Homo sapiens: one gene and its partners. The protein of the gene in region 2 interacts with the protein of the main gene of each other region in a biochemical or structural test. Each region holds a gene or a part of one and is shown on either strand. Other genes may lie near its edges.

Region 1 (3,751 bases), on a different chromosome or scaffold from region 2:
AGAATAATATTACATAGGTGACAATTACAGGAAGATAAAATTTCAGTGTTCATTTCAGTCACACCCATTTATTTATATTCATATATATTTACATATTGTCTTTGGGTGCTTTAATGCTACTCAGTGGAGTTGATTACTTCCCATAAAAACCATATGGTCCACAGAGTCTGAAGTATTTACTCTATGGCCCTTTATGGAAAAAAAATTGCCAATTCCTGACCTGCATCGTGTACATTTTTTTTTTTTGAGACAGTGACTCGCTCTGTTGCCCAGGCTGGAGTGCAGTGGCACGAACATAGCCTACTACAGCCTTGACCTCCTGGGCTGAAGCCATCTTCCCACCTCAGCCACCCGAGTAGTTGGGACTACGGGCACACACCACCACACCCAGCTAACTTTTAGGTTTCTTGTAGAGATGAGGTCTCACTATGTTGCCCAGGCTGGTCTCAAATCTCCGAGCTCAAATGATTCTCCTGCCTCAGCCTCTCAAAGTGCTAGGATTACAGGTATGAGCCACCACTCCCAGCCATGTATTGTTTTTTAACTTTTTATTTTATTTTATTTATTTATTTATTTATTTATTTATTTATTTGAAACGGAGTCTCACTCTGTCCTCCAGGCTGGAGTGCAGTGGCGCAATCTCGGCTCACTGTAACCTCCACCTCCCGGGCTCAAGCAATTCTCCTGCCTCAGCCTTCTGAGTAGCTGGGACTACAGGTGCACGCCACCTTGCCTGGCTAATTTTTGTATTTTTAGTGGAGACGGGGTTTCACCATGTTGGCCAGGATGGTCTCAATCTCCTGACCTCAAGTGATCCACCCACCTCAGCTTCCCAAAGTGCTGGGATTACAGGCTTGAGCCACCGTGCCTGGCCCCTTATTATTATTATTATTATTTTTTAGATGGAGTTTCACTCTTGTTGCCCAGGCTGGAATGCGGTGGGACAGTCTCAGCTCACTGCAACCTGTGCCTCCCAGGTTCAAGCGATTCTCCTGCCCCAGCCTCCCAAGTAGCTGGGATTACAGGCATGTGCCACCACACCTGGCCAATTTTTGTATTTTTAGTAGAGGTGGGTTTCACCGTGTTGGCCAGGCTGGTCCTGAACTCCTGACCTCAGGTGATCCACCCGCCTTGGCATCCCAAAGTGCTGGGATTACAGCCGTGAGCCACTGCGCCTGGCCTTTTTATTTTGAAATAATTTTACTCTTATACTAAACTTGCAAAAATAATTCACAAACTTTCTGTATATCTGTCATCTAACTTCACCTAATGTCAAAACTGTACATAATTATATCAGAATTATCCAAACAAGAAATTTAACATTAATACAATATTACTAGCTAATCTAGAGACTTTATTCAGATTTTGCTATTTGTCCCACTGTGTCCTTTTTCTGTTCCAGGACCCAATCCTGGATCCTACATCACATTTAGTTGTCAAGTCTCCCTGGTCTCATCAGATATCTGGGACAGTTCCTCATTGTCTTTTTTTTTTTTTTTTTTTTTTTGAGACGGAGTCTCACCCTGTCACCCAGGCTGGAATACAGTGGCATGATCTCAGCTAACTGCAACCCCCCTCCCGGGTTCAAGCGATTCTCCTGCCTCAGCCTCCTGAATAGCTGCAATTACAGGCGTGTGCCACCATGCCCAGCTGTTTTTTGTATTTTTAGTAGAGTGGGGTTTCACCATGTTGGGCAGGCTGGTCTTGAAGTCCCAACCTCAGGTGATCCACCTGCCTCGGCCTCCCAAAGTTCTGGGATTACAGGTGTGCCACCACACCCGGCCTGCATTTGCACTAAAATTTATTTTTTTTTTAATTGTTTGTTTTTGAGATGGAATTTCACTCTTATTGCCCAGGCTGGAGTGCAGTGGCGCAATCTTGGCTCACCGCAACATCTGCCTCCCAGGTTCAAGCGATTCTCCTACCTCAGCCTCCCGAGGAGCTAGGATTACAGGCATGCACCACCACGCCCGGCTAATTTTGTATTTTTTTTTTTTTAGTAGAGACAGGGTTGCTCTATGTTGGTCAAGCTGGTCTGGAACTCCCGGCCTCAGGTGATCTGTCTGCCTCAGCCTCCCAAAGTGCTGGGATTACAGGTGTGAGCCACTGCGCCTGGCCATTTGCACTAAAATTTATGAGGGTTCCAGTTTCTCCGCATCCACAACACTTGTTATTGCCCACTAAAAAAATTATATCTCTCCTAGTGGGTGTGAAGTGATATCTCATTGTGGTTTTGATTTGCATTTCCTTAATGGCTGATGATGATGATGATGATGTTCTTATTGGCCATCTGCATATCTTATTTGGAGAAATGTCTGTTTAGATCTTTTGCTCATTTTGTAATTGAGTTATTTGTTATCGTGTACAATTTTGAATGTAGGTATTCAAAGAGTTTGCAGATCTCTTGAAATAACTCAGTGATTTGACCTGCAAATTCTGAGGCAATGCCAGTATGTCCCTGATCTGAATGTAGTTGGATTTGGACATACTAAAGCACAAAGTAAATTTCCATTTGAGGCTACTGACCATGCAGAGCTTGACTCAAACCCAGCCACTTCTGGCCATGTGGAGTTGGAGTGGCCATGGGCAAGTGAAAGGAAGGGTACTATTTGCGTCCAGAAATGAGGTTGTCATCCAAGATATGATAAGACTAGTCAGGGAGCCTTCATTTTGGGTGCCACTCTGCTGTATGTCTGGTTATAGGCAGGGAGTAGAGGAGTCAGTGGTGGTTTGAATGCTCAGGACTAGCTGCTCATAGCTACATAACTACAGTGCTCCTAGGCCTATCTTGACCCTACAGCATTTGGCCATAACCAAACCATCTTGGACACATACCTTGAAACAAACAAAAGCTTCAGTAATGTAAATTGTGAAAGTAGTATGTGCTTATTTTATTATTATTTTTTTTTAGAGATGGAGTCTTGCTCTGTTGCCCAGGCTGGAGTGCAGTGGCACAGTGTTGACTCACTGCAGCCTCCATCTCCCAGATTCAAGCAATTCTCGTGCCTCAGTTCCTGAGTAGCTAGAATTACAGGCAAGTGCCACCATGCCCGACTAATTTTTGTATTTTTAGTAGAGATGGGGTTTCATGATCTTGGCCAGGCTGGTCTCGAACTCCTGACCTCAAGTGATCCGCCCACCTCAGCCTCCCAAAGTGCTGGGATTACAGGCATGAGCCACCATGCCCTGCCGATGTGCTCATTTTAGACATTTTGGGAAATACAGAAAAATCTCCCTCTCCCCACCCTAGTCATCCCTAGCTCTAGTATCTAGAGAACCTTTGTTGCAGTTGCTATATTTCCTTCTTGTTTCCTGCTACGGGGCACATTTTTAATAGTTGGAATCACTCACTGTACACAGGTCCATATCTTGCTTTTTCTTATTAACATCTAAAACTGAAGAAAACACACACTTTAATTTTAATGTCTCCATGTTTTTGCCAGCCTCTTCTATAAGCATTTCTTCTTCTTCTTCTTCTTCTTCCCCTTCCCCTTCCCCTTCCCTTCCCCTCCTCCTCCTCCTCCTTCTTCTTCTTCTTCTTCCTCTTCCTCTTCCTCTTCTTCTTCTCGAGACAGAGTCTGGCTCTGTTGCCCAGGCTGGAGTGCAATGGTGCGATCTTGGCTCACTGCAACCTCCACCTCCCGGGTTCAAATGATTCTCCTGCCTCAGCCTCCCGAGTAGCTGGGATTATAGGTGCCTGCCACCATGCCCAGCTAATTTTTGTATTTTTGGTAGAAACGGGATTTCACCA
Region 2 (3,751 bases):
TGAAAGGAGAGGTATACCCTATAACCCTTTGTATGAATTTCAGAATAATCTAGCAGGGAGGGAGAGATGGCTGATGTAGGAGAGGAAATACTTGAAGAGCATGGTACTTGAGAAGTTGAGAAGGAAGGGATCCAGAGACTATGGGCAGAGGTGGCCTTTGAAAGGTAGATGGAGGGCCAGGCACAGTGGCTCACACTTGTAACCCTAGCACTTTGGGAGGCCAAGGTAGGCAGATCATTTGAGCTCAAGAGTTCAAGACCAGCCTGGCCAACATGGTGAAACCCTGTCTCTACTAAAAATACAAAAATTAGCCAGGTGTGGTGGTGCATGCCTGTAATCCCAGCGACTCAGGAGGTTGAGGCAGGAGAATCACTTGAAGCTGGGAGGTGGAGTTTGCAGTGAGCTGATATCACACCACTGCACTGCATCCAGCCTGGGCTACAGAGCAAGACTTTGTCTCAAAAAAAAGTAAGGTAGATGGACACTTACTTCCTCAGTGGTAACAGGAGAGGTGGCCAGGTTTGGGTAACAGGTGGCCAGGTTTGCAGATTTTTCTAGCATTTTCTCCTTTGTGCTCTACTTCGTCACTGTGGAAGTCTTATCTGACAGTAGTAGTCTTTACTGCTTATAAACCCCCAACTCCCAAAGCCATCTAAATTTCTGACCATAGCCACCCACCCAGCAGCCATCTCCACTTGAGTGTCCCACAGGTATCTAGAGCTCATTGTATCTCATGAAGTTCAGCTTGGCCCAATCTTTCTTCTTCCTGCTTATTCTATTTTGAGGAATGGAACCAACATCAGCCATTAGGCCTAGGAAGGCCAAGATCCTGGGATGGCATCCCAAGGCTCCTACTTTCCTCCTCACATCGTAGCCTCAACTCATGACCACTTATGTTGATTTGGACTTCTTTAGTTGCTCTCACTTCTTCCCCGTGTCTTGATGCTCACTACCTCTGTGCTGCCGTGGCACCCAGCCTCTGTGCCAGGCTGTTGCTGTGGTCTTTTTGCTGCCTGTCTCTTCCCTCTTGCCCATCTGGCCTCTCCTCTAGGCTTCCCTCCATTCTGCCATCTATAATTTGTAATGAAAATTTAACCAGGCACAGTGGCACATGCCTGTAATCCCAGCTACTCAGGAAGCTGAGGCAGGAGGATCAATTGAACCCGGGAGGCAGAAGTTGCAGTGAGCCGAGATCGTGCCACTGCACTCCAGCCTGGGCAACAAGACAATAAGAGTGAAACTCTGTCTCAAAAAAAAAAAAAAAGAAAAAGAAAAAGAAAAAAGAAAAGAAAAGAAAAGAAGAAAATTTAATCACAGCACTCTTAAACCTCAAAGTCTACAGAGACCCCTTCATCATATATGCCCCACACCATCTTGACAATGCCTCCCAATGGGAGATATCAGTAATTATTGTGTTTTTTGTTTTTTGTTTTTTTTTCTTTTTTGAGACAGAGTCTTAATCTGTCGCCCAGGCTGGAGTGCAGTCATGTGATCTCGGCTCACTGCAACCTCCGCCTCCTGGGTTCAAGTGATTCTCATGCCTCAGCCTCCCGAGTAGCTGGGATTACAGGCATTCGCCACCATGCCCGGCTAATTTTTGTATTTTTAGTAGAGATGGGGTTCCACCATGTTGGCCAGGCTGGTCTCGAACTCCTGACCTCAAGTGATCCACCTGTCTCGGCCTCCCAAAGTGCTGCGATTACAGGCATGAGCCATCATGCCCAGCCAATATTGGTTTAGTAAAATACTTTGCCTTTTAGAGCCAGTTTCTGTTTTACCACTAATGTTTACTTCATACTTAGCACACCAGAGATCTTCAATTATAGTTACATTATTTCCCCTGTATTTCCAGAGAAAATTGGATTAATAAATACTTTCTTTTCTTTTATATGTTCAACCAGATACAGATGTCATCATGAAGAGGAAAAGAGGAGGGAGCCCTGCTGTAACACTTCTTATTAGTGAAAAAATATCTGTGGATATAACCCTGGCTTTGGAATCAAAAAGTAGCTGGCCTGCTAGCACCCAAGAAGGCCTGCGCATTCAAAACTGGCTTTCAGCAAAAGTTAGGAAGCAACTACGACTAAAGCCATTTTACCTTGTACCCAAGCATGCAAAGGAAGGAAATGGTTTCCAAGGTATTTTAAATATTAAAGTTAACTTAAAGAAGTAAAAGAGTTGTTAATGTTATATGTTCAGGCAGTAAAAGATCAACAGCCAACCAATGCTGTTGTCATTTCAAGAGCCATCAGGCAAAATAGGTTATAAGATGGGAGTCTGGTGACAGACAGAATTGAAAAGGGCAAAGTTGTAGTATTAATATCAAATACTCAGCTTTAAAATGTCTAGCAATCCATATTTGAATTTTATTTTATTTTTTTCGGTAAAGAAAAGCAGTATTGGCCTTGGAGTCAGACTGCCCTGGTTCTGAATCCTGAGGCTCCTTCTACTAGTTGTGTGAATTCGAGCTAGTTATGATGCTTTCTAAACCCATTTGCTCATCCGTACACTGTGTTAACCAAAAGTACTTGAAAAATTCTGGAAAGATAAAATGTGCATGCAGTTCTGTGGCCAATTCTGTTCATGCCAGTTATACGTTATTACATATTAATATTATCATTAGAGTCTAGACTCTCATTCTCAGCCCTGGTTCTCTCTTTCCTTCATCTTCCCATTCCACTGCTCCTATGCAGCGTGTCTCAGCCTCACAGATCAGGACGGGTTTTCAGGCTGTGCTCTTGGGTAAAATTCAACTTCCAAGAAACAGACTGAGTTGGTCTACAGCTAAAACTTTATAATGGTGATATTTTTGAAGGTAGAAGGAAGTAACTTTTTTTTTTCTTTCTTTCTTTTTTTTTTTTTCCTGAGACAGAGTTTTGCTCTTGTTGCCCAGGCTGAAGTGCAGTGGCACAATCTCAGCTTGCTGCAACCTCTGCCTCCCGGGTTAAAGCGATTCTCCTGCCCCATCCTCCCGAGTAGCTGGGACTACAGGTGCCCGCTACCATGCCTGGCTAATTTTTTGTATTTTTAGTAGAGACGGGGTTTCACCATGTTGGCCAGGCTGGTCTCAAACTCCTGGGAAGTAGCTTTTTTCCTTGTGATTTAGTCTAAAAAAAAAAAGAAAGTAGCTGATTATTTTCATTTTCTCCCATAGATTTATATAGGACTTTTGGCACCTACTACTATTGGATTCCAGGGAAATTGAAGGAGACCATAAAACAAATGAACCAAGTTATAAATGAGTATTGCTGAAAAAAGCCCAGAAATAGTCAATCATGCTTAGTTTGATGGTTTGTGTTTTTGTGGACACACATCATAACTTCATATATTGCATACATAGAGGAATCATTTTCTGTAAGAAAAATAGTCTATGAAGGGTACTTACATATATCATTATTCATGTTTTTACAAAATGAATTATAGCTTTCTGCAAAGAGGTTGTTCTGCAAACTGAACAATTTTTAGAATAGCTGCCCCAGGAAACCCTCACTGTAAGTGATACAAAAATTGCAACAGGACCCCATACCATCTCTTGCTGACCCCATACTGTCCTGAGGAACACTGGAAGGTAAATCACCTTAGAGATGAAGAAGAGTCCTTTGGTGGCCCTGTGGCCTATGTGGTTAGGCAGTTCTTTTTTTTTTTTTTTTTTGAGACGGATTCTTGCTTTGTTGCCCAGGCTGGAGTGCAGTGGTGTGAACTTGGCTCACTGCAACCTCTGCCTCCTGGCTCAAGCGATTCTCCTGCCTCA
Region 3 (3,751 bases), on a different chromosome or scaffold from region 2:
TAAGCATAATGGAACTGTGTTGTCAAACATGTAGCCAGATATGGCTCTTGAGCATTTGAAGTGTGGCTACTCAGAAATGGGTTGCTTTAGGTACAAAATACACATTGGATTTTGAAGATTTAGTTTAAAAAAGTTAAAGGATCTTATTAATTTTTTTATGTTGATCACATGTCCTAATTGTATTTTGCATGTATTGGGTTAAATGAAATGTATTAAAATTAATTTCACCCGCTTATTTTTAATGAGGCTACTTGAGTATGTAACATTACATATGTGGCTTCATTCTATTTCTAGTTCATTATATGTCTTTTTCCTATCTAATATGCGCTGTAGATATTCATCTAATACTCTCTTTAGACAGAGAAAAATTCTTGAGCAGAAAAAAGATTTGTAAGAGTTGAGGTCTCTTGTCAAAGCTGAGGCTTGGGAAAGAAATTGTGAAGGAGGGGAGCATACAGTTAGCATAGGTGACCCTTGCCCACACACCAGCAAGCCCTGACTGCCCACTGCAGCTAAGTGCAGCCCAAGGGAGATATGGGAGGCTGCCAGTTTCCAACTGAGGCCAAGTCTCCAGAGCAGTGTGGACGGGCTGAGAGAAGGCATTCTGACTGTGAGGAGTGCAGACGAGAAGAGCCTGCAGTCCCAGAGCCCAGTGCATCAAATTAGCAGAAGAAAGAGCCCAAATTCACAACCAGGTGGGACCAATTAAATCAGAACCAGACGCCTGAAAAAGGTCTGCTAACTAGCAACACTGCAAGCACTTGGAGTTCTTTATGCAGAATCTCAGTCTTTCCTGGAATGATTCAGAATCTGCACTTTAATATTAAAGTTCTCTAGGTGATTCTTACGCACATTAAGGCTTCAGAAGCACTGCCTTAGATAAAGGACCTTCTTTCCCAGGTGGATACAATTTAGGGTGCAAAACAGCTAGAAGAGGGAGGGGGACAGAGAATGGCCTGCTATTTAGATACGAAGCATCTTTTAGAATGGAAGCTTGCATCGATATCAAAATGGCTTTCAGAATAAAAATCAGTGACTCAGCAGGGGATACTGGGGCTGGTGTAGGCTGGGGGTTCAGAGTTAGGAATGACAGAGCGGGCCCGTCCACCAGCTGGGAGCCCTAGTGAAAGTGGAATAAAATAGGTGGCAGTTGCATTTATAAGTGAGTTGGGCATGAGTTCTTGCACTTTAGGAATAACATTTTTTTTTATCTTTGTGTAGGGTTATATTTAACCTATTATCTGCAATTGATTATCTAACAGGACTCAATAAATATTTGAATTGGAACATAATCAGTTTCAAAACAAAAAATTTAATTTCCACTTCAAAAGAATTTCTACCCCCTGCATTTCAGAAACCTATAATTTAAAAATTGTTTTGATTGTGCATTTTTTTAAAGCTAGGCATGGAGTTTGCCAGTAATAATGACCATAATTTGTGTCAGGCAGCCTCCTACGTGTTTAAATCTGTCTCACTCAATCCTCACCAAAACTCTAAGATATACATATTACTCCGTCCATCTTATAGATGGAAGAAACTAAAGCTCAAAGAAGTCAAGTTAACAGTCTTCGGGCACACAGCCAGTGTCTGTCAGAGTCAGGATTTGAACACATGCAGTCTGGCTGCGGCATCTATGCTCCTAACCACACATTTCTGTCTCTATTGACTGACTGATTAAAATGTCTCTAACCTCAGTGGGGTCATTTGCAGTGAGAAAGAAAAAGAAATAAAGATATAATGAGTTCCGAAAGGGAAAGGACCTTATCTCTTTCACTGCCCTGTCACCTCTGCCAGAAGTGACAATAAGAGCCAGTCAACAGAACGGTAGACATACCTCTCTGACCCGCACATCTGGGGAATGAGAAGCCAAGAAGTTCCAGATGTAAGCAATATCAGGTGGTCAAAGCTCTTCAGAGCAATCCAAGGCACCTTAAACTAATCTTAAGGAACAGAGCGCGCTCACTCGGCTTTTATCTAAACTCAACCACGCACGACTCTGCTCCGTTCCGTTCCGAGAAAGGCAGGGGATCCCTCCTCCGCCAGCCTTTGGCCGTTGAACGGACGGACCCACAGGTCAGGAGTTTGCGGAAGGCTCATCTCCCAACTCCTTCTGGGAGGAGTCGGGCCGCCTGGGGTGGGGGATAAACGGTGCTCACTTCCTGGAGCGGCCAGGCTGGAGATGGGGGAGGGGAAGGGGGAAGGGGGAAGGGGGAAGGGGGAAGGGGGGAAGGGGAGAACGGGGGAAGGGGGGAAGGGATGCTGACTCTGAATCCACGCCTGACAAAATGGTTTGCAGTGATTCCCTAAAGCAGTTTCCAGAGCTGCCTCCTCTACATACTTCAGCTTGTAGAATAGAGGTTTAACTCTCTTTACACGGCCTATTCCCAGCTGCAAAGGTGCCTCTTCTGTGCTCCCTTCCCAAACTTGAGTTCACTTGAAAATGCAGAAGTCTCCCTCATTCTTCTTTCACCCGTGAACCACCCCCAACCCGACCTGCAGAGCGGGTCAAACTCTCCAGACAAGTGGGGACAGCGGTAGCTGGCCAGAAAATAAACTTGCTCACTAACCTGGAATCTGTGGCCTGGATCAGAGCCAAGGACTTGAAGCAGCCGCGTCCTCCACCCAGGCCGAAAGACTCAGGGGGGAAGGGGCGGGGCCTGGGGAGGAGGAGGGTCAAATTGTCCAGCCCCGCAGGAGATCCAGCCGATTCCATGGGTGTGGTCACCAGTGACCCCTCAGGTGGTAAGGGAGATGGAGATGGTTTCTGAGGCCAGGCGCGGTGGTTCACCCCTGTAATCCCAGCACTTTGGGAGGCCGAGGCGGGCGGATAACGAGGTCAGGAGATTGAGACCATCCCGGCCAACATGATGAAACCCTGTCTCTACTAAAAATACAGAAATTAGCTGGGCGCGCCTGTGGTCCTAGCTACTCGGGAGGCTGAGGCAGGAGAATCGCTTGAACCCGGGAGGTGGAGGTTGCACTCCAGCCTGGAGACAGAGCGAGACTCTCTCTCAAAAAAAAAAAAAAAGAATTTTTGAAGGTAGCAACGCAAAGCTGTTCATCTTACCTGATGAACGGCAAATCCGGAGGCCTTTGAGAACACCAGGCCAGAGATGACCCTTGTAAATTGTCTGCAGTGTACTGTAGCTTTCTAATATCATATCAGAGTTTAATTACACTGATAATACACCTGTACTCCATATAGACGTATTAATTAAAATGTCTAAATAAACATATAAAGTTATACGAGTAAAAGCCCCTTTGCATAATGGCATGTTTTGCCAAACGATCATTAAAATTCATCAGTTTAAAATTACACGTATGTATGTATAAAGCTGTGTGTGTGTATCTGTAATTTTGACCTATATAACTAGAAGACAATCTTTGTTTTTATTTAGGTCTGATGAATACATGTAAAGCTTATTGAGCCTCAGAACTCTAACTACAGGGTTTCAATAGCACAGAAACTCTGAGAAGAAAAAGAATGTCAAAGTTCCTCCCTAAGGAGACTGATTAGGTGAGTATCACCTTGCCTTAGAAGGTGGCTTGGGGAGGGAGGTATAGAGAGAGAAGGGACTGGGGTGTCCATACAAAAGTCTGGACGGAGGATTGGGCAGTAGGGAGAGAGCTGGGTTAAGTATCAAGAGATTTCTCTGGACAGTCCCCAGGCAAATGAAAGGTCATTGGAATCTCGTAAGTGCAGACATGTGTCACTATTTCAGTGACTACCTCATGTCTGCAGGCTTAAGAA

The links.
Region 1: of the proteins of CGAS (region 2) and RNF185, one has a biochemical effect on the other in vitro, tested with the Homo sapiens proteins (2 studies listed by BioGRID).
Region 3: the proteins of CGAS (region 2) and TRIM6 form a complex in vitro, tested with the Homo sapiens proteins (one study listed by BioGRID).

What each region holds. Positions count from the first base shown.
Region 1 is NC_000022.11:31,163,100-31,166,850, forward strand, and holds part of RNF185 (E3 ubiquitin-protein ligase RNF185), read left to right. Parts: intron 1-3,751. UniProt on the Homo sapiens protein: E3 ubiquitin-protein ligase that regulates selective mitochondrial autophagy by mediating 'Lys-63'-linked polyubiquitination of BNIP1.
Region 2 is NC_000006.12:73,438,596-73,442,346, reverse strand, and holds part of CGAS (cyclic GMP-AMP synthase), read left to right. Parts: intron 1-1,901; coding exon 1,902-2,138; intron 2,139-3,751. UniProt on the Homo sapiens protein: Nucleotidyltransferase that catalyzes the formation of cyclic GMP-AMP (2',3'-cGAMP) from ATP and GTP and plays a key role in innate immunity.
Region 3 is NC_000011.10:5,594,998-5,598,748, reverse strand, and holds the start of TRIM6 (tripartite motif-containing protein 6), read right to left. Parts: upstream 2,113-3,751; 5' UTR 1,852-2,112; coding exon 1,835-1,851; intron 1-1,834. Other genes in the region: TRIM6-TRIM34 (tripartite motif-containing 6 and tripartite motif-containing 34), read right to left, coding at 1,835-1,851.